Linked DNA regions of Homo sapiens. The protein of the gene in region 1 purifies or fractionates together with the protein of each later gene. This does not show direct contact. Each region holds a gene or a part of one and is shown in the gene's direction. Other genes may lie near its edges. The genes, in order: DUOXA2, OCLN, LRRC8E and DNAJC16.

Region 1 (7,343 bases):
TGAGGGAATTTGGAGAAGAATCAAAGATGGGGTTGAGTGGGCTGAGGGACTCAGTGGGGGTTCACTAGGATTGAGCAGTGGCCCAGGAACTTCCTTGAACACGGCAGAGATTTGGTGATGTGCGTTTACTGAAGATAGAGTGCGCTCCTAGTCCAGGTAGGGTGGGGAGAGGAGGGAAGGGAATGACCCAGCTGCTAGACAAATCCTACACCCAGCCACCAAATTTCAGCCCTTAGGAGAGCTGGAGAGATTTCCCTACTAAGCCTACACATCTTACCCCAGGGTTCTGTTTCAGGGCCCCAAATTTTTGCTTCCCCTTCTCTAGTGAAACTGCGAAGGAGTGTGAAAGGCCCCAGCCCCCAAGGCAGCTCATTCTGCACCTTTCTTAGTGTGGTGCCCCTCTCTGCCAACCCCTCCCTCACCTCATGTAGACACCAGGGGGCACCATGGTAGAGAAGAACTGCTCAGAGGCCACCACAAATTCCGGGGAGATGCTGGGGTCTAGGAAAGGACGGTATCCTGCAGGAAGGAGACGGTGATGATGGGGAGACAGGCTTCTTGCCTCCACATCCTCCCATCACAGGCACCTGTCTCCTTCCCCTCAGGATTCTCCGCACAGGTGTCCTCCTTCCCCGCTCCCTCACCTGTATACTCCGGGAGTGTTTTCTGCAGGAAGCTGGGCAGCCACTCATACACAGCGATGTTCTGAGGGGCAGAGAGGGGCGAGGGGAGGCACAAGTTGGATGGTGTGGGGCCTGGAAGGGTCTGAGCCCAAGGACGGCTTCCGTGTGGAGATGAGACCAGGAAGGGTCAATCATGGGAGAAGCAACTCAGACAGGAGCAGTGTGAGGCCTGTCCCCACAAGGAACCAGGGGATTTGAGGGAGTGGGGGTTGGGGAGGTGATAAATAATCATCACCAGCCAGATTTCTCCTATAAACAGCGCGTGCCTCCCTATCATTTACAGGGGCTTCCCTAGACCTCGGCTGTCTGGGGAGGGGTTTCTGGGTGGCGGTTGTCCACAGATGGGGAGCTCCATGGGGCAGCGGAGTCTCCCGTGGGCTTGCACGCGGAAGGGAGGACGTCGCGGGGCGCGGACGGCTGACCTGGTAGGTGGCGATGACCCTCTTGCGTGCGTGCTGGAACAGCTCCTCGTCCTCCCAGTCTGGGTGCTGGCGGGCCAGCCTCTGCGCCCACAGGTTGTGGTAGCGGAACCAGAGCAGGCCCAGCGCCTGCAGGAAGGGTTCCCGGTTCCCTCTCTCTGCCCCGAAGGCTGCATCCGACGTGGGGGCGCAGGGGAGGAGACGAGCGGTAGCGTGATCGGGGGAGCCCACACTCGCAGACCCCCAGCCGGCCCCGTCCCGCCCCTGTGGCCTCACCGTACAGCCCCCGGGGCCCGTTCTGCCCGGTGGCGGGGTCGGGCGCCGCCCACATGAGCAGGGGGTTCTGCGAGTCTCGGGGGAAAGCGGGGTCGGGCCCCGACGCCAGCTGTCCCCCCGAGAAGCTCCGCAGCGCGTCGCTCCAGGAGTGCGAGGAGCCATAGATGGCGCTGCCGTCCAGCCAGCCCGTCACCTGGTTGGCCTGCGGGGCACGCGGCGGGTGAGCCCGGGTCGAGAGGCGGCGGCGGGCCAGGGAAGGCCGGGGCCCGGCGGGTGTCCGCGGCTGGGGAGTGGGCGCCTCTCCCCTCCAGGCCCTGCCAGGCCCGAAGCCCAGGCCCCACCTGGCTGGGGTGCGGTCCCTTCCCGCCGCCTTCCCCGCCTCACCAGGTCCCGGGGGTTGCTGGGACTCCGTCCGGTCTCGGGGTCCCAGCGGCTCCTCTGGAAGGGCAGCACCACGTCCCCGCGCTGGTCGGGGTCGAACACGGGGTCTCCAGGTGGGATGCGGATGTTGAGGAACTCGGCGGGGCAACCGGGCGTTTCCACGCTCACCACGTCGGAAAGAACATGGTAGCCTGCGGGCATGGGGCGCCAATACGTGACAAACCGTCCGTATTGCGCCCTCCCCACGGCCAGGGCGGCCTCCAAGTGTCCTCAGGAGCCAAAAGACAGAGGTCCCAGTGCCAGCTCCGCCACCAGCTCTGCACGTTAGCCCCAGGTAGCCTCAATTTTCTAATCTGCAAAGTAAGACTATAGTGAGTTCCCTTCCTACTCAATTCATAAAGCTGTTGTGAGAATCAAAATGATATAATTTATGTAGGGGTACCCCAAGTCAGTCCTCCTCCCTCTGGGCTAGGGGGAGGTAAAATGGTTACAAACACACGGTGAGGAGAGCGGTGGCTGGGGAGCTCAGTTCCCAAGAGCTATAATGGGGGTCCAGTGACACCCCTAGGTTGGAATAAGGCGTAAGAGAAAGGTTAGATACAGAGCAAATATCTCTGTATCAACATCCCAAAATCTCTCCGAGATGAAGGCAGTCTCGAAGTGCTGCGTAGAGAGGAAGTGGTTGGGAGTCGGATGGGTCTCCTGTGGACTCGCAGACGGGATCTGGCCCCTCCCCCAGGCTGAGCAGAGCGCCAGATCAACCCCACTGGTCTCCCCCTTTGCCCTCACCAAAGAAGACCCCCAGTACGGTGCGGTTGTGGAGCGACGGCAGGCCGGCTATGCCCCGCGTGGCTGCGTTGCTGAGCCGGCGCGGGTTGGGCAGCTGCGGCTCCTCCAGAGCCTGATACACACCGTCGGCGTAATTGGCTGGTACGCGGCGCTGCAACCGGCAGCCTGCGGAGGCAGGGAGCGGGGCTCTGTCTAAGCACTCCATCCCCTAGGATCCCCCAAACCTCTCCCTAAGCCTCCCTCAACCCCCATCCCACTTCACTGACAGAACCTTCCCTCAAGGGTCTCTTGGCCCCGGGAGCGCATAAGATTGCGCTGTGTAGGCAGCGGAGCTGCTGGGCGCGTGTTCCCCGCAGATTCCCCGCTCAGGGCCTTTCGCGCCCCGGCCCTTCGCGAGCCACGGCCCCAGCACGCCCGGGCCCCCAGAACGCACCAACAGCACCACGCTCGTGGTGCCTCAGGTTGTTAAACCAGCCGTCATAGCGCTGCACTTCCCAGGGCAGTGAGAGTGCGTCCTGACTGCCTGTGGGCACAGAGAAGGGCCTCCTCAGCACTACGCTCCCAGCTACCCCTCCCGAGCAACGAAGGCCTTGGCCAGTCCTTCCCCAGCTCGCGGAGCGCCCCTAACCGGACCCAAGTGTCGGGCCGCACTGGGAAGTTTCCCATCCCGCTGAGCTGCACGGCGAAATGACCTTCCAGTCTCAGGGAGCCGCTTGCCGCACCTCTCCCCGCCCCACCTCCCAGGGATCCTGGGGAACACCCCGCCGCTAGAGGAGCCTGATACTTGCCCGATGGACCCAGGGATCCAGTCAGAAGAGCTCCCAGGAGCATCAGTGCCTCTGGTCTTGCACGGAGCATGCCAACCCTGCAGCCTGCGGGGTGAGGGTGGGGGTGGTAGGTGGTATGCGAAAGCCACTGTTAGGGCGTCCTCTATGCCTCCCCTCTTGTTCCTACAGCTAGTACTGGAGGAGGAGCACCAGCTGTTTCCACTTCTGGAAGGTAGCTGTTAGAAGCATCACCGAGGACCTTCATCCAAACGCCACTCTTTCCAGGACAATTGGCAGCTCTGGAGGCATTGACACTGTTCCCCATCCGCCACCCCATCAGAGAGTTAACCCCCGACCATAGGAACCCACTGGGCAGGAGTCTTCTGGGGCATGTCAGTCCAGGGCAGGACTGGTCAAGCCTCCCAGGGTGTGCCCAATGTCTCCAATGTTTCACCTCCACCCGCCCCCGATCCGTCAGGCTCCGCTTCTCCTCCAGGAGGCAGGGAAGGGAAAAAGGTTACTGACCTGGGAGTGAGGGACTGCAGCACCCTTCCACAATGAATCCCCCCTTCCCCAATAAACTCCCCTTCTGCAATGAACGCCTGTGCATGATGGGCGAGGGCTAGGGTCAGATCCCAAACTCTGGTCTAACCTGTGGTTTAGGGTGGTGTTGGGTTCAGATGTCTTCTTTCCTCTTAAAATCTTTGCTTCTGTGCTCTACTTCTTGCCTTCACCCTCACTCTTCCAGCTCCGCCGATCCTCAGCCTCCCCGGCTGCACTCTCACCTTTCTCTCTGGGTCCTTGGTCTCGCCACTGTGCAGGTGTCGGCTCAGGACAGACCTGCGCCAGTGTGAGCATCTGGACCTAGGGCTCACCCTCCTGCCGTGGAGGTGGGGCCCTTATTTGCACAACCTCTTCCAGCTCAGACCAGCCCCTGGGCTGGGACACCCGTGTGGCACGTCGCCCACGCTGCTATAAAAGGGGTCCCGCGCGACTTCCAAACTCAGCGCCAACCCGCAGAACCAGGAAAGTAACGGCTACAGACAGTGAGAAATAGTTTCGCTCGCCGGCTAGAAAAACTCTGTCGGTACCAACCCCAGAGCGTTGAGAGCAGCCCACCTCCACGCTTCCTTAACGGAGAGGTGCAGGACTCAGACTTCACCAGCCCACTCGGTCCCAGCCTTGTACGCAAAGAGACGCCAAGGACGCGCTCTCCCGCGTCCAGGCAGCCCCAGCTTGCTGGCTTGCCTGCCCGCCTGCGTGCAGCACTCGGCCGGCGTGCAGCATGACCCTGTGGAACGGCGTACTGCCTTTTTACCCCCAGCCCCGGCATGCCGCAGGCTTCAGCGTTCCACTGCTCATCGTTATTCTAGTGTTTTTGGCTCTAGCAGCAAGCTTCCTGCTCATCTTGCCGGGGATCCGTGGCCACTCGGTAAGGGTGTCCTCATAGTGCAGGTAGAGTGGGGGAAGGCTCATGGGCAGATTGTCTCCTGAGGGACCCAGGACAGGTAAGACTGTACAAGAGCCTCCATGAATAGTCGAATTGAGGCTCAGGTGGAGTGAAGTCAGGAGTCTGGTGCAGCAAGCACCCCTTTCCAAGGATAGGGAGAGCTCCCCATCCAGGATATCCTGGAGAAGGACCCCAGCTGGGTCCTTGGGAAGGCTGCTGCAGAGAATGGGCACCCAGTCCAGTAATCCTGAGGAACAGTCTAGGCTTCTTGTGCTGGAGGGCCTCCCACCTCTCCCAGGACTAAAGCTGCACTCTCATCCCATCCGGTGGGTGATGACCTTCAGGCCAAAAGGACAGATGCCAGCAGCTCAGACTGCAGTGTTCCCCTTTGCACTGGGTTGAGACACATGTGTATGGGTGCCTCATCCTCAGGACTGAGACTCCCACATTGGATTAGAAGTTGGAGCCAACTGGGTGCATTGTCTTAGACTTTCCCCCTCTCCCAGAACCTAGGTTGTGCATTTTTCAGTTCTGGGAGGACCCAGCTTTTCTGCATCTTAATCTGTGTTGCTTTCCCTGGAACTGGTGCACCTAGGAGTATCTGCATTCCCACCTCCTCCCCTCGGAGATCAGGCTGGGGCCTCCCTCTTCTGAGGGAGGTGACCCCTGCGTGCCTAGCACTTCTGGACTCACTGAGCCTCACCAAGCAGTGACTGGACCAGGAGGCAGAACCAGGACCAGGCGCCAGACAGCTAGGGGAGTGAAGGTGGTGGAAGAGTGCCAGGAAGTGGGGGTGGAGGGGAGGTGCTGTTAGGGTAGATGGGAAATGGGGCTAGGGAGGTGAAAGTGCGTGGTCACAAAATATCAGAAATGCCAGTAGCCCAGAGGGACTTGCAGGAAAAGCGTGCCTAACATTAGTCTCAAAAGTCTGGATATAACTAAAGATCCAGGTGAAGTGGGGTCAAGGGTGGTCTTGGGGACTCTGGTTTGGCAGGGCTCAGGCCTGACCCGGGTGCCTATTCCTGCAGCGCTGGTTTTGGTTGGTGAGAGTTCTTCTCAGTCTGTTCATAGGCGCAGAAATTGTGGGTGAGTGTGTGGTGCAGCCCATGGGGAGAGGACGGGGTGAGGAAGGAGGTGGGCAGAGGGCACCTGGGACAATAGGGAACTGGGGTTGGTTTTCTGCTCCCTCTTCCCACTCTCCAGCTCCTTCTAGGGCCCACTTTTTGGCCCTTACCATGCAACCACATTGGACCTCTAAGTCCCCATCTCTCTGCAGTGTCCCACCTCCCATACCACTCTCTAATTCCATTTTCCCACCCTCATCCCACCCCCACCGTGTGCCTTTCCCTACAGCTGTGCACTTCAGTGCAGAATGGTTCGTGGGTACAGTGAACACCAACACATCCTACAAAGCCTTCAGCGCAGCGCGCGTTACAGCCCGTGTCCGTCTGCTCGTGGGCCTGGAGGGCATTAATATTACACTCACAGGTGAGGGGGCTGGGGCTAAATGAACTCCTGGAGCTGGGAGATCCCCGGTTAGGTGAGTGTGTCAGGGATAGCTGGAGGGCCTCTCACATCCCACAAGCTCAAATAGCTTGTGGTCCTCGTGGATTTGCGTTTTCTCCAACCACCACCGAACCCATTTCTCCCGCCGAGAGCGCCACACCCCCACTTTCCTGTCTGAATCCGCTTAGTTGCGAGGTCTCCGACCGCGGGCAGCCCCATGAGCCCGCCTCACCCCACAGGGACCCCAGTGCATCAGCTGAACGAGACCATTGACTACAACGAGCAGTTCACCTGGCGTCTGAAAGAGAATTACGCCGCGGAGTACGCGAACGCACTGGAGAAGGGGCTGCCGGACCCAGTGCTCTACCTGGCGGAGAAGTTCACACCGAGTAGCCCTTGCGGCCTGTACCACCAGTACCACCTGGCGGGACACTACGCCTCGGCCACGCTATGGTAAGTGCTGGAGGGAAGGCTGTGTGCACGTGTGTGTGTGCCAGGAGCTGGGCCGTATGAGCGGGAGGATGCAGGCCTCGGAGGCGCTGAGCAGCTGCAGCCAGACCCGACGCGCTCGGGGTGGGCATGACAGCCTCGCGGGTTAGAAGATCCACGAGATCTGCACAGACGGAATCCGGAGAGACTCCAGCCACCGCCTGGACCTCAGGAGCCCGCTTCTCCCCCGGGGAATTCCCCTGCACCGCTGCCATCCCAGTCCCTGGCTTTGACGCTGGGGTAGGGATAAAGAAGAGCGCAGCTGTGGGAACCCCGGTGGGCTGGGAGAAGCCCGCTCACAGCGGGTCCCCCCACTCCCCGGCAGGGTGGCGTTCTGCTTCTGGCTCCTCTCCAACGTGCTGCTCTCCACGCCGGCCCCGCTCTACGGAGGCCTGGCACTGCTGACCACCGGAGCCTTCGCGCTCTTCGGGGTCTTCGCCTTGGCCTCCATCTCTAGCGTGCCGCTCTGCCCGCTCCGCCTAGGCTCCTCCGCGCTCACCACTCAGTACGGCGCCGCCTTCTGGGTCACGCTGGCAACCGGTGAGGACCGAGAGAATGGGCCCCGGGGGCTAAGGGTGGAGAC
Region 2 (7,023 bases), on another chromosome or scaffold:
ATCTGAAGTCCTCGCGTGAGTGCACCTGCGTGCAGATGTCTGCTGGTGTTTATTATGGCTGTGCTCTGTGATTACAGTGCACTGGCAAAGGGCTGTAGTGTACTGAACAATGATGCCTGTTTTTATTAGGGTTCCTGAAGTGGTTCAGGAGCTTCCATTAACTTCGCCTGTGGATGACTTCAGGCAGCCTCGTTACAGCAGCGGTGGTAACTTTGAGACACCTTCAAAAAGAGCACCTGCAAAGGGAAGAGCAGGAAGGTCAAAGAGAACAGAGCAAGATCACTATGAGACAGACTACACAACTGGCGGCGAGTCCTGTGATGAGCTGGAGGAGGACTGGATCAGGTACCGACTCAGCTCTCCTTTCCTGGCCCACGTGCTCCTTCTGATAATTAAAGGAGACCAACCAGGTGTTGGAGTTATTGCCTCCCAAATTGAGGTCACTGGTGTAATTTCATTCTTTGCCAACCAGGACTGGAGACAGTTTTTTGTGTGGTGTTGGCTGGTTTTTTCCTTAGCACCCTTTTGTGACAAAGTTTGAAGTGGAGAGAATGTTTGGCAGTAACCATGTCTTTGAACTTTGGCAGTAACCACTTTGAACTTTCCACAGTGTGGCTGGTGAACTTCACCAGTGCTCTTTCTTATACCAATAGTCACGGAAGAAAGATGTCCTAGCACTTTGGGAGGCTAAGGCTAAGAGTTCAAGACCAGCCAGGCATAGTGGTGTGGGCCTGTAGTTCCAGCTACTCGGGAGGCTGAGGCTGAGGCAGGAGGATTGCTTAAGCCCAGGAGTTCAAGGCTGCAGTGAGCTATAATTGCATCATTGCACCCCAGGCTGGGTGATAGAGCTAGACCCTATCTCAAAAAACAACCAAAGGCCTTTCAAATAAATAAAATCCAGGTATAGAAGAACTTTGTTTTACTAATTATAAAATTCCCAAACCAGTGCTATGGTTTTCCTTTGGCATTACTTTTTTTTTTTGAGACGGAGTCTTGCTCTGTCGCCCAGGCTGGAGTGCAATGGCACGATCTCGGCTCGGTGCAACCTCTGCCTTCCGGGTTCAAGCAATTCCTGCCTCAGCCTACCAAGTAGCTGGGATTACAGGCGCCCACCACCATGCCCGGCTAATTATTGTATTTTTAGTAGAGACGGGTTTCACCATGTTGGCCAGGCTGATCTTGAAAATCCTGACCTCAGATGATCTCCCTGCCTCGGCCTCCCAAAGTGCTGGGATTACAGGAGTGAGCCACCGCGCCTGGCCGGCAATTATTTTTTAAATTAAGCTTAAAATGATAAGACGAGAGTTTCTTTTAAAGTTTAATCCAAAGAGTTCCGTAAACAATTGAGGTAACAATTTAGTGTTCAGCCACAGTTGTGGTTAAGTTTCTTTGTGTTTTGGTGGTTTTGTTACAATCCATCCACCATCACCAAATGTATTTGTGTATGATGTGTAGCCTTCCTATGCCCAAGTATTCTGAGGACTAAGACGCACATCAGAAACATTTGCAATGTGAATGGTAATCAAAACATCGCTTCTCAGAGAGTGAGGAATGATAGGCGGGGCATGGGTAGCTTGAGATCCCCTATTCACTGATGATTCTGATACTTTATCTTCCCCTCTCCCCTCAAGAGTTTTTGGCCTGGCTTAGCCATCTATCTGTAAAATATTCACCTAACTTGTATCACGGAAGATTTAACTGAAAACTTTATATATTTTTTTGAGATAGAGTCTCACTCTGTTGCCCAGGCTGGAGTGCAGTGGCACGATCTTGGCTCACTGCAACCTCCGCCTCCCAGGTTCAAGCAATCCTCCTGCCTCAGCCTCCCGAAGAGCTGGGATTACAGGCATGCGCCACCACACCCGGCTAATTTTTGTAGTTTTAATAGAGACAGGGTTTCACCATGTTGGCTGGGCTGGTCTCAAACTCCTGACCTCAGGTGATCCACCCACCTCGGCCTCCCAAAGTGCTGGGATTACAGGGGTGAGCTACCATGCCCAGCCTGAAAATTTTCAAAATCTGAAATTCTTGTTTCCCTTTTGATCAAATCATTTAAATTTCTCCCCTCTGTAAAATGAAGATGTTAGATTGTTAGATCTAAAATTTGAAATTCCACATCATTGTGAAACTCCAGTCCTGTGAAAGGATTCAGAGTATTTTCTCTATGGATTATGGGTTAATGGCATCGTCTTCCTATGTAAGGAGTGGCTGGTATATTGAGAAATAGATGTGATACAAAATTTCAGTTTTTCTTCTTTATACTTTAATGAATTGCCAGATTATTTTAACAGTGAGCACATGTTTTTATACATGTACATTTTTAATGTCTATTTTTATTGTGAAAGAAGTAGATAAGCTATTTCCACTTCGGAAAAACAAGAGCAAAAAAATAAATAAACCAGTCTGAAAACTATGGGTGGTAGCAGGAAACAGCCACTTCCAGTCAGCTGTGCTGCCACTGTGGTGATCAAAGCGGACTTTGTGTTCCAGAATTCCAGTTTTAAGACTTTAAACAGGCCAGGCATGGTGGCTCACTCCTGTAATCCCAGCACTTTGGGAGGCTGAGGCAGGTGGATCACCTGAGGTCAGGAGTTTGAGACTAGCCTGGCCAACATGGTGAAACCCTGTCTCTACTAAAATACAAAAATTAGCCGGGCGTGGTGGCAGGCACCTGTAATCCCAGCTACTGTGGAGACTGAGGCACGAAAATCGCTTGAACCCGGGAGGTGGAGGTTGCAGTGAGCCGAGATTGTGCCACTGCACTCCATCCTGGGTGACAGAGCAGGCTTTGTCTCAAAAAAAAAAAAAAAAGAAAAGAAAAACTTTATAAACATAAGTAGTCCATTATTGATATTGTGTATGGGAAATAAGTGAGTTCCTATGACTTGTACCTTCAATTTTGTAAATGATTTTCAAAATTATTTCTGCAAATTACGTAGGCATAGTTTTTATTTTTTAAAAAATGAGCAGTAATATATAGTCACTCTTAATAGAACTTATTTGTATTCTCTCTCTCTTTCCCCATAAGAAACAAAAACGAAACAAGAAAATGTCATTCTCCATACCCAACCAGCTTTATTATCTTTGAGGAAGGAGCATTGAATTTTATGTCTGCTAAGGATACATATGTAGTCATTTTCTCTCTCACCTTTTAGGGAATATCCACCTATCACTTCAGATCAACAAAGACAACTGTACAAGAGGAATTTTGACACTGGCCTACAGGAATACAAGAGCTTACAATCAGAACTTGATGAGATCAATAAAGAACTCTCCCGTTTGGATAAAGAATTGGATGACTATAGAGAAGAAAGTGAAGAGTACATGGTAAATTCAACCTGATATTTATATATTAAACAGAATTTGAATCTAATCTGTGGAGGTACAGCATCCTTTATATTAATGTTGATAAAAATGTGCTAGTAGTTATCAAACTGCAGTTTCATTGAAGAATAGTTGAGATTGGGTTTTGGATGAAATTCTTTCCTAATAGAAGATTGTACTAATGTATAATAGTTAATAATTACAAAGCACTATTCTGTTTTTTTTTTTTTTTTGAGGTGGAGTCTCGTTCTGTTGCCCAGGCTGGAGTGCAGTGGCGTGATCTCAGCTCACTGCAAGCTCTGCCTCCCGGGTTCACGCCATTCTCCTGACTCAGCCTCCCAAGTAGCTGGGATTACAGGTGCCTGCCACCACGCCCGGCTAATTTTTTGTATTTTTTTTTTTTAGTAGAGACGGGGTTTCACCATGTTAGCCAGGATGGTCTCGATCTCCTGACCTCGTGATCTGCCCGTCTTAGCCTCCCAAAGTGCTGGGATTACAGGCGTGAGCCACCGCGCCCAGCCCCTACAAAGCACTATTCTATGTACATCTATCCTTTCCTATTTAAAATAAAATAGCCAGGCTGGGCATGGTGGCTCATGGCTATAATCCCCACACTTTGGGAGGCCAAGGCAAGTGGATCACCTGAGGTCAGGAGTTAGAGAATAGCGTGCCTAACATGGTGAAACCCCATCTCTACTAAAAATACAAAAAATAGCAGGGCATGGTGGCAGACACCTGTAATCCCAGCTACTCGGGGAGGCTGAGACAGGAGAATTGCTTGAACCTGGGATGGGGGAGGTTGCAGTGAGCCAAGATTGCGCCATTGCACTCCAGCCTGGGCGACAGAGTGAGACTCCATCTCAAAAATTAATAATAATAATAATAAAATAGCCTTATTATCTTTCCTATTTATAAAGCCATTCATTCTTTCTGTAGAAAAGAACTTAAGCGGCCGGGCACGGTGGCTAATGCCTGTAATCCCAGCACTTTGGGAGGCCGAGGTGGGCGGATCATGAGGTCAGGAGATCGAGACCATCCTGGCTAACACAGTGAAACCCCGTCTCTACTAAAAAAAAAAAAAAAATACAAAAAATTAGCCAGGTATGGTGGCGGGTACTTGTAGTCTCAGCTACTTGGGAGGCTGAGGCAGGAGAATGGTGTGAACCCAGGAGGCGGAGCTTGCAGTGAGCCAAGATCGCGCCACTGCACTCCAGCCTGAGTGACAGAGTGAGACTCCATCTCAAAAAAAAAAAAAAAAAAAAAAAGAACTTAAGTAACACAGAACTGTATACAGAAAAAGAAATCATCTTAAATCCTACCATCAAGAAATCCTTATCACCAAAATATTAGTTAAAACAATCTCTCCAAGCAGGAGTCACCAAGGCACATACACCTTTCTTTAAGGAAACATCATCTTCCATGTTTCACTTATTTTCTTCCTGTCTTTTAAATCAACAGTTTATGGGTTTTTTTTTTCCCTCCCTTGATCACCTGGCTGAGATAGAATTTGTCCATGTAAAGTTACTGGATTTTTTTTTCAATCCATCCTTTTCATACTGTATTTTGTATACATACTGAAATTAATGTAGTTACACCACCTTTTAGAGGGAGATTAATCTCTTCTTGTTTATTTGTTCCTTTATTGATCAGTCAATCACTTACGTAAGTATGGACTTTACAGATACCTGTTTTATACTGTGAATTATAATCCAAGGCTGCTTTATTTTGTAGCTCTAATTGTTCTCGCTTTGACGGTTGGGAACTTTCAGTTGCTTCCCGTGTCCCTTTGACATACTCTTATTGTGGGGTTTTATCTTTAAAAAAAAAACAAACAAAAAAACTTCCTTGCACTGCTTATTTCTGGCTTTTCTTAACAGCAAGTTTTTTTTTTTATATCAATAATAAAGACCTACTTACTTTTAAGTTTTTTATGTGTAAAATTAGGTAAACAACTTTCAAATTTATGGTTGTATCATAATTTAAGAGTCATTTTCTATGGATAGACATTTAAGTATGTCTCCCCCTACTCCAGTAGTACCAGTATATACTGGTGAACCTCTCTGTTTTTGCACTCTTGTCTACTTATCTAATTTTTTTTTTTTTTTTTTTTTGAGACGGAGTCTTGCTCTGTCGCCCAGGCTGGAGTGCAGTGGCGCTATCTTGGCTCACTGCAACCTTCGCCTCCTAGGTTCAAGTGATTCTCCCGCCTCAGCCTCCCGAGTAGCTGGGATTACAGGCATGTGGCACCACACCTGACTAATTTTTGTATTTTTAGTAGAGACGGGGTTTTGCCATGTTGGTCAGGCTAGCCTCGAACTCCTGACCTCAGGTGATCTGCCTGCCTTGGCCTCCCAAAGTGCTGGAATTACGTGTGTGAGCCACAGTGCCCAGCCTGCTTATCTAACTAAAACTAATTCCAGAATGTGAAATTGCTGAGAGTCAGAGGGTACGTACCTTTGCAAAGTTGCAAAATTGCCCTCCAGAGAGACTGCACCAACTGTGTCTCCCTCTTGATACAATACAGGACTCATTTGATGCACATCTCATTAAATATTCTGCCATTTTTCAGTTGAGGTGATCTACTTTTTAGTTTTGACGTATTCACATCTTTATATAGTTAGATTTATGTATTTCTTTTATGGTTTCTATAGGGTGTTATAGATCTTTCTTAATTTAGTGAACATTTATTGATCACTTATTTTTCTTTGATGATGTGGAAATGCTGGAGCTAGAGACATAAAATCTTGTCCCCACCCTAAAAGAGCTTATATTTTAAGAAAAAAAACCTGACATCTAAACAATTTAGACAGTATGATTAATGCTGTATTTGCATCATGTGTAGAAAGCACTATAACTAACTGCTCATAGAAGAAATAAAGTCTTTGGAGGCTTCACAGTGAGGGAATCGTTAAGAGCTTTCCAGACAGAAGGGTGCGGGGAGGTGCATGATTACAGCCATAAGGAAAACATGATTGAAATCCTGAAGCATTTAACATGTCTCAGTTTTTAAAGGAGTTGCTGATGATGGGTACTGAGACTGGAAAGGTAGGAAACTGGATGAGGGGAGAAGTTAATGGGAAGCTCAGACCAGTTGTGTAGTGGGATATTACCTGATCAGCGAGCGCTCTGTGTTATAAAAGATCTTCCTGGTGTCAATGTAGCATGGGGACTGGCATGAGGAGAGATGAGAAGTAGCAGAACAGATAGTTACCTGCCTATGTGAGTGAAATGTGAAAGATACAGTATCATAAATGTCTCTTCACTGAATTCCTTCAGACCTTCCTGCTGATCATGAGTTTTAAGAGCTTTACGACTTCATTCTTTTAATTGCTTATATTTTTGTCATAAGCTGTCATTTTTAGCTCCAAAGTATAACATCAGGAATGTTACTTTTAAAAGAGAAAATGCCCCAGTAAACATATTCCTTTGTGTCTGTCGTTAATAGGCTGCTGCTGATGAATACAATAGACTGAAGCAAGTGAAGGGAGTAAGTATCCGAGATTGTTCTTTTAGGAAGAACTTTCTTTCTTCTTCTTTTTATTTTAATTCCCATACCTACTCATCTGGAGGAAGAGCTTTTCTATTACATGTTTTTCATTTTTTATTTTATATATTTTTTAAAAGTTGAAGTATACATACAGAAAAGTGTATAAATCAAAGTGTATAACATGGTGAATTTTCACAATGTGACCACATACC
Region 3 (7,023 bases), on another chromosome or scaffold:
AGGACAGGAAGTTGGTCCCTGCTCGGGTGTGTGTGTGTGTGTGTGTGTTTGTGTGTGTGTGTGTGTGTTGTGTGATTTCTTCTGCAGCCTCCAGAGTCAGGAGTTTTTGTTTTGTTTTGTTTTTTTGAGACGGAGTCTCGCTCTGTCGCCCAGGCTGGAGTGCAGTGGCGAGATCTTGGCTCACTGCAGCTTCTGTCTCCCGAGTTTAAGCAATTCTCCTGCCTCACTCTCCTGAGTAGCTGGGATTACAGGCATCCACCACCATGCCTGGCTAATTGTTTTTGTATTTTTAGTAGAGACGAGGTTTCACCATGTTGGCCAGGCTGGTCTGGAACTCCTGACCTCAAATTATCCGCCTACCTTGGCCTCCCAAAGTGCTGGGATTACAGGCGAGAGCCACCGCGCCCGGCCCCAGTCAGTAGTGTTTTGCTTGCTGTGTTTGAGATAGGGTCTTGCCCAGGCTGGTTCATGGCTCACTGCAGCCTCTAACTCCTGGGTTCAAGCAATCCTCCCACCTCAGTCTTCCAAGTAGCTGGGACTACAGGCATGCACCACCACACCTGGCAAGATTTTAGATTTTTTTTTTTTTTTTGAGACGGAGTCTCGCTCTGTCGCCCAGGCTGGAGTACAGTTGTGCAATCTTGGCTCACTGCAGGCTCTGCCTCCCAGGTTCACGCCATTCTCCTGCCTCAGCCTCCCAAGTAGCTGGGACTACAGGCGTCTGCCACTATGCCCGGCTAATTTTTTGTATTTTTAGTAGAGACGGGGTTTCGCCGCATTAGCCAGGATGGTCTCAATCTCCTGACCTCGTGATCCACCCACCTCGGCCTCCCAAAGTGCTGGGATTACAGGCGTGAGCCACCGCACCCGGCCCAAATTTTTAGATTTTTTTGTAGAAATGGGGTCTGACTATGTTGTCCTGGCTGCTCAAACTCCTGGGCTCAAGCAATCCTCCTGCCTCAGCCTCCCAAAGTGCTGGAATTACAGGCCTGAGCCACTGCACCCAGCCTGGGGTCAGCATTCTTAGGTAAAGCAACTGAGCAGTGTCCCTGCAGGATCCTTGGAGGACTCAATGGATGGCCGGAACCAAAACAGGACGTGAGGGTCCCTGGTGCTGGGTCCCTCCGAAGCTCAGTGTGTGTACTTGGACTTTATACCCTCGTGCACAAATATGCATGACCCAAAATGACCCCAAGCGTCCATTTTGGTGGGTGCAATGTACATATTCTTCCCCTGGGGACAGTTGAGCTATCCTGGTATGTTTCTACCAGATTACATACTGGTGACCCAGGCAGACTGGGATATTTGTAGTCGGGTTTCTTTTCTCTTCTCTTCTCTTTTTTAGAGACAGGGTCTTGCTCTGTCGCCCAGGCTGGAATGCAGTAGTGCAATCTTGGCTGACTGCAACCTCCGCCTCCCGGGTTCAAGGGGTTTTCGTGCCTCAGCCTCCCGAGTAACCGGGACTACAGGCACCCTCCACCATGACTGGCTGTTTTGTATTTTTATTTTTATTTTGTTTTAGTTTTGAGACAGAGTCTTGCACTATTGTCTGGGCTAGAGTGCAGTGGCGCAATCTCAGCTCACTGCAACCTCTGCCTCCCAGGTTCAAGCGATCCTCCTGCCTCAGCCTCCCTAGTAGCTGGGATTACAGGCACCTGCCACCACGCCCAGCTAATTTTTTGTATTTTTAGTAGAGACGGGGTTTCATCACGTTGGCCAGGCTGGTCCCTAACTCCTGACCTTGTGATTTGCCTGCCTCGGCCTCCCAAAGTGCTGGGATTACAGGCGTGAGCCACCGCACCTGGCTAATTTTTGTATTTTTAATAGAGACGGAGTTTCACCATGTTGGCCAGGCTGGTCTCGAACTCCTAACCTCAAGTGATCTGCCCACCTCGGCCTCCCAAAGTATACTTGGCTTTTTGCTTAGGGCAGGGAGTGTGAATGAGCATGAGGGCCAGGCCATGGTGCGAAGGACCCTGTGCTCTGGGCACCCCCTTGCATGGATCTGGGTCTGGGTGAGTCACTGCCTGAGTCAGGGAACCCATGACTTTTTTTTTTTTTTTTCCCGAGACAGAGTCTCGCTCCGTCTCCCAGGCTAGATTGCAGTGGCACGATCTCAGCTCACCACAACCTCCGCTTCCCGGGTTCAAGCGATTCTCCTGCCTAGCTGGGACTACAGGTTCATGCCACCATGCCCGGCTAATTTTTGTATTTTTAGAAGAGACGGGGTTTCACCATGCTGGCCAGGCTGGTTTCGAACTCCTGACCTTGTGATCCGCCTGCCTTGGCCTCCCAAAGTGCTGGGATTACAGACGTGAGCCACTGCGCCTGGCCCAACCTATGACATTTTACACTTGCATGGTGAGTCCCCGTGTGGGCAGGCTGTACCCACACCCTTGCCTGCCTATCTGATTCCCCAGACTGAAGTGGGGGCCTCTGAGGGGGTAAAAGGATGTGGTCTTTCGGGACTGCTTGGCCTTTAGCTTGGTGGGTGGAGCCTGTATCCTACCTTGTTTTAACCCAGGAGTCACCCCAAAATATGGGGGGGACACAAACTGAAAAGGGAGGCTCAGACATGTCAGAACCATTGGCTGAGTCGTGGGTCAGGGGACCAGGGTTTCCCTAGATTCTTCCTGGGGAGATGGATGGGGAGCCAGAGATAACTCCCTGATGGGCAGATGCCCTCCTTCTTGGCCCAACTCCTGTCCCGTTACAGATTATCTTTGTCTTTTGTTTTGTTTGTTTGAGATGGAGTCTCACTCTGTCACCCAGGCTGGAGTGCAGTGGCACGGTCTCACTTCACTGCCACCTCTGCCTCCCCGGATCAAGACCCTCCCACCTCAGCCTCCAGAGTAGCTAGGATTACAGGTGTGTGTCACCACACCTGGTTAATTTTTTGTGTATTTTTAGTAGACTCTGGGTTTCACCATGTTGGCCTCACTGGTCTCGAACTCCTAACCTCAAGTGATCCACCTGCCTCAGCTTCCCATAGTGCTGGGATTACAGGCATGAGCCACCGCGCCCAGCCCCAGTTACAGATTATCTATCTGGACAAGGACAGGAGGCTCCCAGGAGTGGGGGAACTTGGATGTTGGCAGAAGTGGGCTGGTCTAAGGTTCCCCACCTTCCTTGTTCCACCTCCAGCCTCTGGGGAAGTAGGTACCTGCCTGGGAGAGTGACATCTCAGCTCATGCCCCACGCCCCAGTGTGATTTGTGGCTGGCCTGTCTGTATCTGTAATAGTGATAGCTTGGTCTAAAAGGAGACCCTGGGAACAGACAGAGTGGGCCGGCCAGGAGCCTGACAGCACAGCCCTAGCCTGGTCGCAGATGTCACCTGACAACTTTCCATTTGCAAATCCTCCTTCCTCCTCGGACATCCGGACACCCCATTGCCCCCTCTCAGAGCCCAGGTCTCTGGTTTCTGCCTGTGATTCTGGGCTGTAGCCCCTTTAGAAACTCAGGTGTCCTGGTCACCTCCTACCCCCAGGGCTGACTAGCCTTCAGCTTGGCAGTCCCTGCCCCTGGGGCCCTAGTAACCAGAGCCAGGCTCCAGCCGGCTTTTCCGGTTAGAGGTTGGAGGTGGTGCCCAGAGTGCCCCTGGAGGGGGTGGAGGGGCCTACGCCCCGGAAGTCCTGAGCCTTGGAACGCTTTCAGGCCTGGTGGCGGTGGGAGCCGGGGCTGGCCCAGACGCTGAGTGTCTGCAGTCAGGGAGCATCGAGGCAGATGTTTTCAGGCCTTGGTGTCAGGGGTGGGAGAGGGATGCCTCGTTTTGGGGAGGGGGCCACCCGAGGAGGCTGGAGGGCGGCGGCCCTGTGGACTATCCCTCATGTGCTCTTCGAGGTCAGACAAGTCAGATCAGGTGCAGGGGTGCCCAGAGGGGAACAGTGGCCGCTTGGTTCTGGGCAGGTGGTGACGTCTGCATGGAGGGTGACTAAGGCCAGGCTAAGAGGGAAGTGGGGGCACACACTTTGGTGGTTTGGACAAGTTTGGGCAGGGAGGGTCACAGGCCTGCCTGTGTCCGGCTCCTCGGAGGACCCCCTGCAGAGCCTCCCATCCTGAGGGTCTCTCTCTACACCCCCCGTCTCGTCCCGTCCCACAGGCAGCATGATCCCAGTGGCCGAGTTCAAGCAGTTCACGGAACAGCAGCCTGCGTTCAAGGTGCTCAAACCCTGGTGGGACGTGCTGGCCGAGTACCTCACCGTGGCCATGCTCATGATTGGGGTCTTTGGCTGCACCCTCCAGGTGAGGCCCTCCCCTGGCAAGGGGGTGTGACCAGAGGGGCGGGGCAGGTGTCTGGGGAAGTCGGGAAGCCTTCTCATCACCCAAGAAAGAGAGGAAACTGAAGACAGAGCCCCACTCAAAGGCCAATCCAGACCCCTTATCTTCCTTACCTCCATAGCCAGGAGCACCGGAGTCCCCACATTGCTATGCCATTCCATATCTTTTTTTCTTTTTTGAGACGGAGTCTCACTCTGTCACCCAGGCTAGAGTACAGTGGCATGATCTCAGCTCCCTGCAACATCTGCCTCCCGGGTACAAGCGGTTCTCCTGCCTCAGCCTCCTGAGTAGCTGGGATTACAGGCGCCCACCACCACGCCTGGCTAATTTTGGTAGTTTTTTAGTAGAGATGGGGTTTCACCATGTTAGCCAGGCTGGTCTCGAACTCCTGACCTCAAGTGACCTGCCTGCCTGGGCCTCCCAAAGTGTTGGGATTACAGGCCTGAGGCACTGCACCTGACCCTTTCTTTTTTTTTCTTTTTTTTTTTTTTCTTTTTGGCTAAAAAGAGACAGGGGCCGGGCATGGTGGCTCACACCTGTAATCCCAGCACTTTGGGAGGCCAAGGTGGGAGTATCACTTAAGGCCAGAAGTTTGAGACCAGCCTGGCCAACACGGTGAAAACCCGTCCTTACTAAAGACACAAATATTAGCCAGGCATGGTGGTGGACACCTGTAATCCCAGCTACTTGGAAGGCTGAGGCAGGAAAATTGCTTGAACCTGGGAGGTGGAGGTTGCAGTGAGCCGAGATCATGCCACTGCACTCCAGCCTGGGTGACAGAACGAGACTCCATCTTAAAAAAAATAAAATAAAATAATTGAAAATTAAAATAAAGAAACACGGTCTCATTCTGTCATCCAGGTTGGAGTGCAGTGGCATGATCACAGCTCACTGCAGCCTTGAACTCCTGGACTCAAGTGATCTTCCCGCCTCAGCCTCCAGAGTAGCTGGGATTACAGGCACACACCACCACGTCCAGCTAATTTTTAAATTTCTTGTTGACACAGGGGTCTTGCTATGTTGCCCAGGCTTGTCTCGGACTCCGGGCCTCAAGCCATCCTCCCACCTCGGCCTCCCAAAGTGCTGGGATTACAGGTGTGAGCCACTGTGTCCAGCCCCATATTTTCACAATGCTCAGTTTTATCCCTAGAATCTGGAAAGGACTGCAGTTGCTATATGAGTTTGTTACTTCTGTTGTAACAAAGTAGCAGGGATTGAGTGGCTTAAATAACCAGAAATGTTTCCTCTTCTGGGTCTGGTTCTGGAGGCCAGAAGTCTGAGATCAAGGCGTCAGTTGTCAGTGAGGGAGAATCTTCCAAGCTTCCCTCCTAGATTTTTGCAGCTCCAAGAGTTCCTTGGCTTGTAGATGACATTCTCCCAGTATTTTTCTTTTTCTTTTTCTTTTTTTTTTAGACAGAGTCTCCCTCTGTCGCCCAGGCTGGCATGCAGTGGTGCGATCTCGGCTCACTGCAACCTCCGCCTCCCGGGTTCCAACAATTCTCCTGGCTTAGCCTCCCAAGTAGCTGGGATTACAGGCGTGTGCCACCACGCCCGGCTAATATTTTTTTGTATTTTTAGTAGAGACGTGGTTTCAGTATGTTGGCCAGGCTGGTCTTGAACTCCTGACCTCGTGATCAGGATCAGCCTGCCTCTGTCTCCCAAAGTGCTGGGATTACAGGCATGAGCCACTGCGCCTGGTCGAGACAGTTTTTTTTTTTTTTTTTTAAGCAAGCTCTGTCACCTAGGCTGGAGTGCAGTGGCGCAATAATAGCTCACTGTAACCTTGTACTCCTGGCCTCAAGCAATCCTCCTCTACCACCCCCGCTTGGCCCCCCCTCCCACTGCCTCCCAAATCACTGGGATTACAAGCCTGAGCCACCGCACCCAGCCTCTCCCTGTATCCTCACGTCATCTTCTGTCTTTGTGTCTGTCTCTGTGTCTATGTTTCCCCTTTCTCTAAGGCGCAGTCATACTGGGCCCACCCTACTGGCTTTGTCTTGACTACCTCTGCAAAGACCCTATTACCAAACAGGAGCCGCCTGACCCAGCTCAAATAATACCACATTCTAAGGATTCGGAGTTGGGACTTCAACATCTTTTGTGGGGACACGATTCAACCCAGCTCCTTTTCTCAGACAAAGACCAGTGCTTTGTCAGTTGTGGTGGCTCATTCCTGTAATCCCAGCACTTTGGGAAGCTGAGGCAGGGGATCACTTGAGGCCAGGAGTTCGAGAGCAGCCTGGCCAACATGGTGAAACCCCATCTCTACTAAAAATACAAAAATTAGCTAGGCGTGGTAGTGCGTGCTTGTAGCCCCGGCTACTCAGCAGGCTGAGGCAGGAGAATTGCTTGAACCAGGAGGGGAAGGTTGCAATGAGCCAAGATTGCACCACTGCACACAGCCTGACAGAGCGAGACTCTTGTCTCAAAAAAAAAAACCAAAAAAAAAAAAAACAGTGCTTAGAGGTTTAGCAAAACTCTTCCAAAATCACAGCTGGCTGGCAACAGTCAGAGATGGGGGGTGCGGGGGGTCTCCCACCTTCAGCCTGCTTTTTCCCCATCCCCCTCATTTTCTCTCTTTTTTAAATTAATTTATTTTTGAGACAGAGGCTCACTCTGTCACCCAGGCTGGAGTACAATGGCGCGATCTCGGCTCACTGCAACCTCCATCTTCCGGGTTCAAGCGATTCTCCTGCCTCAGCCTCCCGAGTAGCTGGGATTACAGGTGCCCACCACCATGCCCG
Region 4 (7,023 bases), on another chromosome or scaffold:
TATTTTTTTTTGAGACAGAGTCTCACTCTGTCACTCAGACTGGAATGCAGTGGCACGATCTCAGCTCACTGCAACCTCTGCCTCCCAGGTTCAAGCGATTCTCCTGTCTCAGCCTCCCGAGAAGCTGAGATTACAGGCACCCACCACCATGCCCAGCTAATTTTTGTATGTTTAGTAGAGACAGTGTTTCACCATGTTGGTAAGGCTGGTCTCGAACTCCTGACCTCAGGTGATCCACCCACCTCAGCCTCCCAAAGTGCTGGGATTACAGGCGTGTGCCACCATGCCCGGCCACTTCCCTTTTTTTATATTGGCTGACTGACCCTTTCCCACTGGCTAGGAAAGGATCACCCATGGCTGCCATTCTGGGCAGCAGAGCCTGGGACTGTCTCTTCATCAGGGAACCTCTGGTGCCCAGCACAGGGCCTGACACACGTGGAGTCCAGTGTATAGATGTAAAAGGAATGAGTGAATTAACCTCAAGAGGGATACCCACTCCCACCTACTGATGAGACCATGAGCCCCTGAAGGACAGAACCACATCTCATTCGTGTTTGTGATTCCTGGCACCCAACACAGCACCTGACAAATGACAGCCTTTGATGGGTGTTGGTAGGTACATAAAATTTCAGAACACCAGTCCTAGATGAAATCTTGAAAGATCAATTTTATCTCCCTACTCCACCCCTCTGGGCTACATCTGAATTTTTCTGGCCAGAAAAAAATCAGTAAAGTTGAGGAAATAATTCCACAATGTCAGAAAATTCTTCCATGTTTACACCTTAAGTCCTTTATTATCCCTTTTATTGTTTCCTCATGCAGAACTTATTGAGCATAGCCTATTATACTGAGATACAAAATCAAACTTTTAGAATAAGCTGTCTGTGAATTAGAACACTGAGCAATCTCTACCTTCCCCTCCACCACCTCCACCCGCCAAGAAAAGCTCTGTTTGCCTGAAATTAGTAAGCGTTTATTGGTGTGAAGAGTTTTTGGTTTGGGATTTTTATTTTATCTTTTTTTAGCTGGAGAGAAGAAATTTTAACTTGAGCTAATAGTTTGTTAATTTGGTTTTAGGAGGGAAATGATGCCCCTGCTGTCCCTGATCTTCTCTGCCCTCTTCATCCTCTTCGGCACTGTCATCGTTCAGGCTTTCAGGTAAATGTCCTGTGGCTTCTCGGTGCACCACCATGGTTGGTGTTGACACTTTTTTTGTAAAACTCCTTTTTTCTTACTTTAGCGACTCTAATGATGAGCGAGAGTCAAGCCCTCCAGAAAAAGAGGAAGCCCAAGAGAAGACTGGGAAAACTGAGCCAAGCTTCACCAAAGAAAACAGCAGGTTTCTCTAACAAAACACCAGACTCACCTCCCCGGCACCTGCCCCCCAGATCCTGTCATCTGATAACGCAGCATTGGAACATAGAGTGTAGAGAAGAACTCTCATGCACCTCCTCCCATGTAAACTGTGGCTACAGGGAAAAGTCACTGTGATTTGTGTTTACTAAGACCCTGTAGGTGTTTAGATGCCTTAGATTTCATAATGAAGGCAGAAGGAAAGAAGCCTATCAGGCAAGTGTTAGGTGAGCCAGAAGCAGGACGTGGTTTATCCCTGTAAATGTCAATGAACGTAACCAGTCTTGTGCGCACACACACCCAGCAGCAAGAGGCCAGGGTCTCCGAGACAAAGAACATAGACTGAATGATAGTTGTCTTCTTCATTCTGTCCTAGAGCAACTTCTGCACCTGAAAAGCAGCATCAAGCAGGGCACAGTGGCTCACGCCTGTAATCCCAAGACTTTTAGGAGGCCTAGGTGGGAGGATTGCTTGAGCCCAGGGTTTGAGACTAGCTTAGGCAACATGGCAAGACCCTGTCTCTACAAAAAACTTATAAAATTAGCTGGATGTGGTGGCAGGCACCTGTAGTCCCAGCTACTTGGGAGGCTGAGGTAGGAGGATCACTTGAGCCCAGGAGGTCGAGGCTGCAGTGAGCCATGATCATGTCGCTGCACTCAAGCCTGGAAAACAGAGCAAGAACCTATCTCAAAAAGAAAAAGAAAAGCAGCACAGAAAGGCTGTTTGTAGGTCAGGGATTACCAAGTCAGGCCATCCCCATCCTACCAATGTGTTAGACTCAAGAATAGTGAATAACATACCTAGTCTGGTTAGAACATAGCATTTTCTTTCAGCTGTTTCTTTTCAAAGTAACGGCTTTCCCCCTATCCTGACAGCATCTTAACTCCTCAATATTTCTCCACAGCAAGATTCCTAAAAAAGGCTTTGTGGAGGTAACTGAACTCACAGATGTAACATACACCAGTAACTTGGTACGTCTGAGGCCAGGCCACATGAATGTGGTCCTCATCCTGTCGAATTCTACCAAGACCAGCCTACTACAGAAATTTGCTTTGGAGGTCTACACATTTACTGGGTAAGCATGTGTGTGTGTGCATGTATGTATGTGTGTGAGAGAGAGAGAGGCAGGCACACTGAAATTGCACGCTTTTCTCTTTGGTCTTGTGGGGCTTCATCCATACAGCAAGATGCTGGCTGTGACCTTTCCAATCCAGACATCTGAGCCATTGCGACAGGGACCTCTTTTCCCACTTCACTTCGTGTTTTGTTGGTTCTGAACAGAAAAGCTTGAACTCAGTGTTATTCCCTGAGCCCTTTCAGTTACTGTTCTCTAGCCCTTGTGTATTTTCCAGAAGAGCAATGTTAAGTTCCACCGAGCAAGCGATGGGGGAATGGGTGATTGAAGTGTCGCAGCTGCTGGAGAGGCACTGGCTCCCACAGAAGGCCTTCTTTTTCTCTGTGTTCAGGCCCCATCCAACACAAAGCGTTTTCCTATTATTTTAAGTCTCACTGGGGTATTTATTTTCTCAGCAATTAAATGTGTCAGGAAATGCCCTGAGTCCTCAATTCTCTTCTTCCTACAGGAGCAGCTGCCTACACTTCTCCTTCCTGAGTCTAGATAAACACAGAGAATGGCTAGAATACTTACTAGAATTTGCTCAAGATGCAGCTCCAATCCCAAACCAATATGATAAGCATTTCATGGAGCGTGACTACACTGGTTATGTACTGGCTCTGAATGGCCACAAGAAATACTTCTGCCTCTTCAAGCCCCAAAAGACAGTCGAAGAGGAGGAAGCCATAGGGTCGTGCAGTGATGTTGACTCTTCCCTCTACCTGGGTGAATCTCGAGGGAAACCTTCCTGTGGCCTTGGATCCAGGCCCATCAAAGGAAAGTTGAGCAAGCTCTCTTTATGGATGGAACGCCTGCTGGAGGGCTCCTTACAGAGGTTTTATATCCCATCATGGCCTGAACTAGACTGAGAGGATTTTCCAAAGAGATTTGAACTCTTCAGACTTTTTAACATGCCCCTGTGAACAGGTATTTTCAGGACTCAAACTACCACAATGAACAGAGTATAGATTTTAGATTGCTCTTCTAGAACCATGGCTAGAAGAATCTTTCCTTTGTCCTGTTCTAACCTAGGAATGAAAAACACCACCAGTTTGAATCGCCTAGATGAAAATCTTTTCCTCTGGGTGTTATTTTTCCCCACTGAATGCCACACCATTGAAAATAGACTGCTCATCCCCTCTTCCTTTCTTGTCCTTGTCCCATGCTCACCCCACCCTCCTGTCCTGTGTCTTGGAGAAGCACAGGGCTCCACCCTGCAAGCGGCATCTGGCGGACCCTCATGAGCCTGTCGTGCAGGCCAGGTCATTGGCCCCTTCCCCAATCCCGGCCCTGCTGTGCTGCTGCCATGGCGCATGCTCCTAACTCTGAACAACCCACGGCAGCTTCTAGCCCCGCATCTGGAAAAAGGCCCCTTTCCAAGCAATCTCACGTTTACTGGTTGTTCTGGGAGTAAGTGGCTAAATGTATATTTTGGGGGTATCCCCCAACAACAGTTTGTTGGCCACAGGTTGAAAAGGAAAGGAATAAACGGGAGTTCTGCATGTGAGTTCTCAAGAAAAGGAAAGGGAGGCTGAGCAGTGGCTGAAGCGATGCAGCCTTGAGACACGCTGTGAGCATCCCATCCGCCGCCCCAGCGCTGCTGGTAGCCAGGGGAGGGGTCTGCACAGCGAGAAGTACTGTGATGACTTTGAGCCGTTGACATGTATGTCTTCAGATGCCTTTCTGCCTCTGTCGATTTTAGGGTATGGATATTAGGAGCCATAACTTGTAATCTTGTTCTCTGAACGTAGAGATAAGCTGCTATAAAGCCAGTAGATGTTAAACTGAAGAGAAATTATTCCCACCTGCTATGAGTCAGGCTTAAGGAATCTCTTCAATAGTGTCTCTTTAGTAAAATACCAAACATGTCTTTGTATCAAGGAACTTAAAATTTCTCAACAATTGTATTTTGAACACTGTTACCCTAAAAGTGCTGTCTCTTCAAGTCATCTTTTGCAGGAAGTGAGCCAAGATTTGTTCTAGACTCCCATTTTGCAAAAGGCTTACTTTCCACTTCTGGGCTGTATTTTGATGTCTCATCTTCATTGTTTTCACTCTTAACTTAGAGCTGCTTCACCAGTATTGGGGTCAGACTGGCCATCAGCACCTGAGCGTGCTGAGCTCCAGGTATAGTGGACCCCAGGGTGCCTCATACCAGCCAGTTAGAGAGCATACCTTTTATTTTTCAGGGCAGAATGACCAGTGGTTCTGAGTTTGAGTTTGGACAGCTTCAAAGAGTGGTCCGTTCAAATGTCAAAGCAAGGTGCCTTTGGTGGCTTTGTGAAGGGTGAAAATCAGTGATGGGACATTTACTAAGTATTTCTTTTTTTTTTTTTTTTTTTAGTTGTTGAGACAGAGTTTCACTCTTGTTGCCCAGGCTGGAGTGAAATGGTGCGATCTCGGTTCACCGCAACCTCCACATCCCAGGTTCAAGTGATTCTCCTGCCTCAGCCTCCTGAGTAGCTAGGATTACAGGCATGTGCCACCATGTAATTAGCCCGGCTAATTTTGTATTTTTAGTAGAGACGGGATTTCTCCATGTTGATCAGGCTGGTCATGAACTCCTGACCTCAGGTGATCTGCCTGCCTCAGCCTCCCAAAGTGCTGCTGGGATTACAGGCGTGAGCCACCACTCCCGGCTAAGTTAGTATTTCTTTAATCTTAATGCTTTAAACTAAGCCACTTGGATCCTGAATAATTTAAATCTTGAGCTACATTGGTAAGTAATAAATTATTTAAGGCCAGGAATTCCTGTAGTTTTCATGGAGTCTGTAGCTTTATTAAAAAATAAATCACTGCCAGGCTTCATTCTTCCATATGATCCTCTAAAAATGGACACTTCCTCTGAATGCTGTATCTCATGGCACCTGGTCCAACTAGAAATGGTCAAGGAATTCATTTGGCTCCTTGATACATCAGTCCTCAATATTACTTTCTAGGTATTTTATGGCCAGATTGCTTATATGAGTGGTCTTTTGGTTTGGTAGTAGGTTTTTATTTTTAATTTCTGTACTAATGAAATTCCTGACTTTAATTTCTGAAAACCAAAAACTCTCCAAGTGTATTTATTTATATTTTTTTTAATAGAGACGAGGTCTTGCTATGTTGCCCAGGCTGGTCCCAAACTCCTGGCCTCAAGCAGTCCTTCCACCTTGGCCTCCCAAAGTGCTGGGATTATCAATATGAGCCACCATGCCAGATTTGTTCATTTTTAAACATTTTTATCTCTTCAAGTCATCTTTTGATCTTTTAAAAAGCACCTTCAAACAGCTGCACCTTCCATTTGCACTAGGAAATGAAGGTAGTGATGGGATTGGCAATGTTCCTGGCAGATGTTTCAGCCCAAAAGCTCTTCTACAGACCGGTTTAGAGCTGGTGCCCTATGAGAATATTAGGGAGCTTTTATTTTAAATTGAACTTTACCCTTGTCCATGCAAGGCATTCCTCCTGAATGCATCCATGAATTTGTTTACTTTTGCGTCAAACATATGAGCCATTGTCATGCTCAGCCTGTGCCACCATTGCTCTGTCTGATGTATGTAATCATACAAGACCTGATTTTGGTTCTAACACAGTGGTCTTTGACTATCAACATTGATGTTTTTAGAGATGGGTTCTTCTGGTTGATACAGACTATGCATTGCGTTTAGCAGATGGGGTAAAACTGGCCTAAAACAAGTCTTTGCAGAATACATGCCAATTTCCAAAAAAAAAAAAAAATTTGTTGCTCAGGTGTTGCACAATTTTTATCTAACACTGAGGCTATCAGCTCCAACTAAACAACATTTCAGTGGGTGAGGCTGCCCTAACTTCCATTAGGGGCCATGGTCTCACTGCCATCACTTATTAGCCATGAGAATTTGGTTGTAGTTTTCAGGTAGGTTGGTTTCTTCCTCATTTGCAGCTTGTTGATACTTGTTCCTTTTTATTTATTAACATCCCAATCAATTTGCAGCTGCCATCATTACATAAATATTTTTCTGTTATAAAAAGAAGTGTGATCTGTTTTTTTAGTGATTTCCTTTGTTTGGGAATAGAGATTGGAAGCACATACTCAGACCTGTTTTGTTAACTAGAATTCTTTAAAAGCTGATGCCAAACATCTTTACAGAGGAACTGTAGTTCACATCCACCTGTCTGACATTGTCCCCTAAAAACAAGTGCAGTGTGGCAGCTGCTGAATCTGTCTGTTCAGTTTGTCAAGGAGGATAATTATGCTTGGGAGAGATCTGAAAAGAAGGTGAATATTTTGCACTTTTGATACTCTTAGGAACAAATAACTTATTTGGCAAATTGTTTCTTTTTTATGTTTTGGGTGTTGTTTTTGTTTTTTGACTTTTTTTGTATTGTGAACAGGCACTGAAGCTGATGTTATTTTAAGATTACAGAATGGAAAAAGAAATAAACTATTTTAATGTCTGATAATTATGGGGTAGCCCTTGCATTGCAAGATGATGATTTGATTATGGACACATTATCAACAGAATTGAATTTGCATGGAACTCAAGACACGCTTAAGATCACCACAGCATAACTGCAGATTTCAGGAATTACAG

Evidence for each region.
Region 2: the proteins of DUOXA2 (region 1) and OCLN purify together in Homo sapiens (co-immunoprecipitation; 2 studies listed by BioGRID and IntAct, with this or other methods). This does not show direct contact.
Region 3: the proteins of DUOXA2 (region 1) and LRRC8E purify together in Homo sapiens (co-immunoprecipitation; 2 studies listed by BioGRID and IntAct, with this or other methods). This does not show direct contact.
Region 4: the proteins of DUOXA2 (region 1) and DNAJC16 purify together in Homo sapiens (co-immunoprecipitation; 2 studies listed by BioGRID and IntAct, with this or other methods). This does not show direct contact.

What each region holds. Positions count from the first base shown.
Region 1 is NC_000015.10:45,110,006-45,117,348, forward strand, and holds the start of DUOXA2 (dual oxidase maturation factor 2), read left to right. Parts: upstream 1-4,320; 5' UTR 4,321-4,600; coding exon 4,601-4,747; intron 4,748-5,793; coding exon 5,794-5,851; intron 5,852-6,118; coding exon 6,119-6,253; intron 6,254-6,459; coding exon of another isoform or gene 6,460-6,510; coding exon 6,511-6,724; intron 6,725-7,085; coding exon 7,086-7,300; intron 7,301-7,343. Other genes in the region: DUOX2 (dual oxidase 2 isoform 2 precursor), read right to left, coding at 423-519, 645-705, 1,106-1,272, 1,379-1,580, 1,763-1,950, 2,549-2,713, 2,982-3,071, 3,337-3,406. UniProt on the Homo sapiens protein: Required for the maturation and the transport from the endoplasmic reticulum to the plasma membrane of functional DUOX2. May play a role in thyroid hormone synthesis.
Region 2 is NC_000005.10:69,544,775-69,551,797, forward strand, and holds part of OCLN (occludin), read left to right. Parts: intron 1-129; coding exon 130-345; intron 346-3,155; coding exon 3,156-3,327; intron 3,328-6,769; coding exon 6,770-6,811; intron 6,812-7,023. UniProt on the Homo sapiens protein: May play a role in the formation and regulation of the tight junction (TJ) paracellular permeability barrier.
Region 3 is NC_000019.10:7,891,499-7,898,521, forward strand, and holds part of LRRC8E (volume-regulated anion channel subunit LRRC8E), read left to right. Parts: intron 1-2,074; exon of another isoform or gene 2,075-2,361; intron 2,362-3,021; exon of another isoform or gene 3,022-3,841; intron 3,842-4,100; 5' UTR 4,101-4,105; coding exon 4,106-4,243; intron 4,244-7,023. UniProt on the Homo sapiens protein: Non-essential component of the volume-regulated anion channel (VRAC, also named VSOAC channel), an anion channel required to maintain a constant cell volume in response to extracellular or intracellular osmotic changes.
Region 4 is NC_000001.11:15,564,842-15,571,864, forward strand, and holds the end of DNAJC16 (dnaJ homolog subfamily C member 16 isoform 1 precursor), read left to right. Parts: intron 1-1,077; coding exon 1,078-1,158; intron 1,159-1,240; coding exon 1,241-1,339; exon of another isoform or gene 1,340-1,569; intron 1,570-2,257; coding exon 2,258-2,428; intron 2,429-2,936; coding exon 2,937-3,336; 3' UTR 3,337-6,892; downstream 6,893-7,023. UniProt on the Homo sapiens protein: Plays an important role in regulating the size of autophagosomes during the formation process.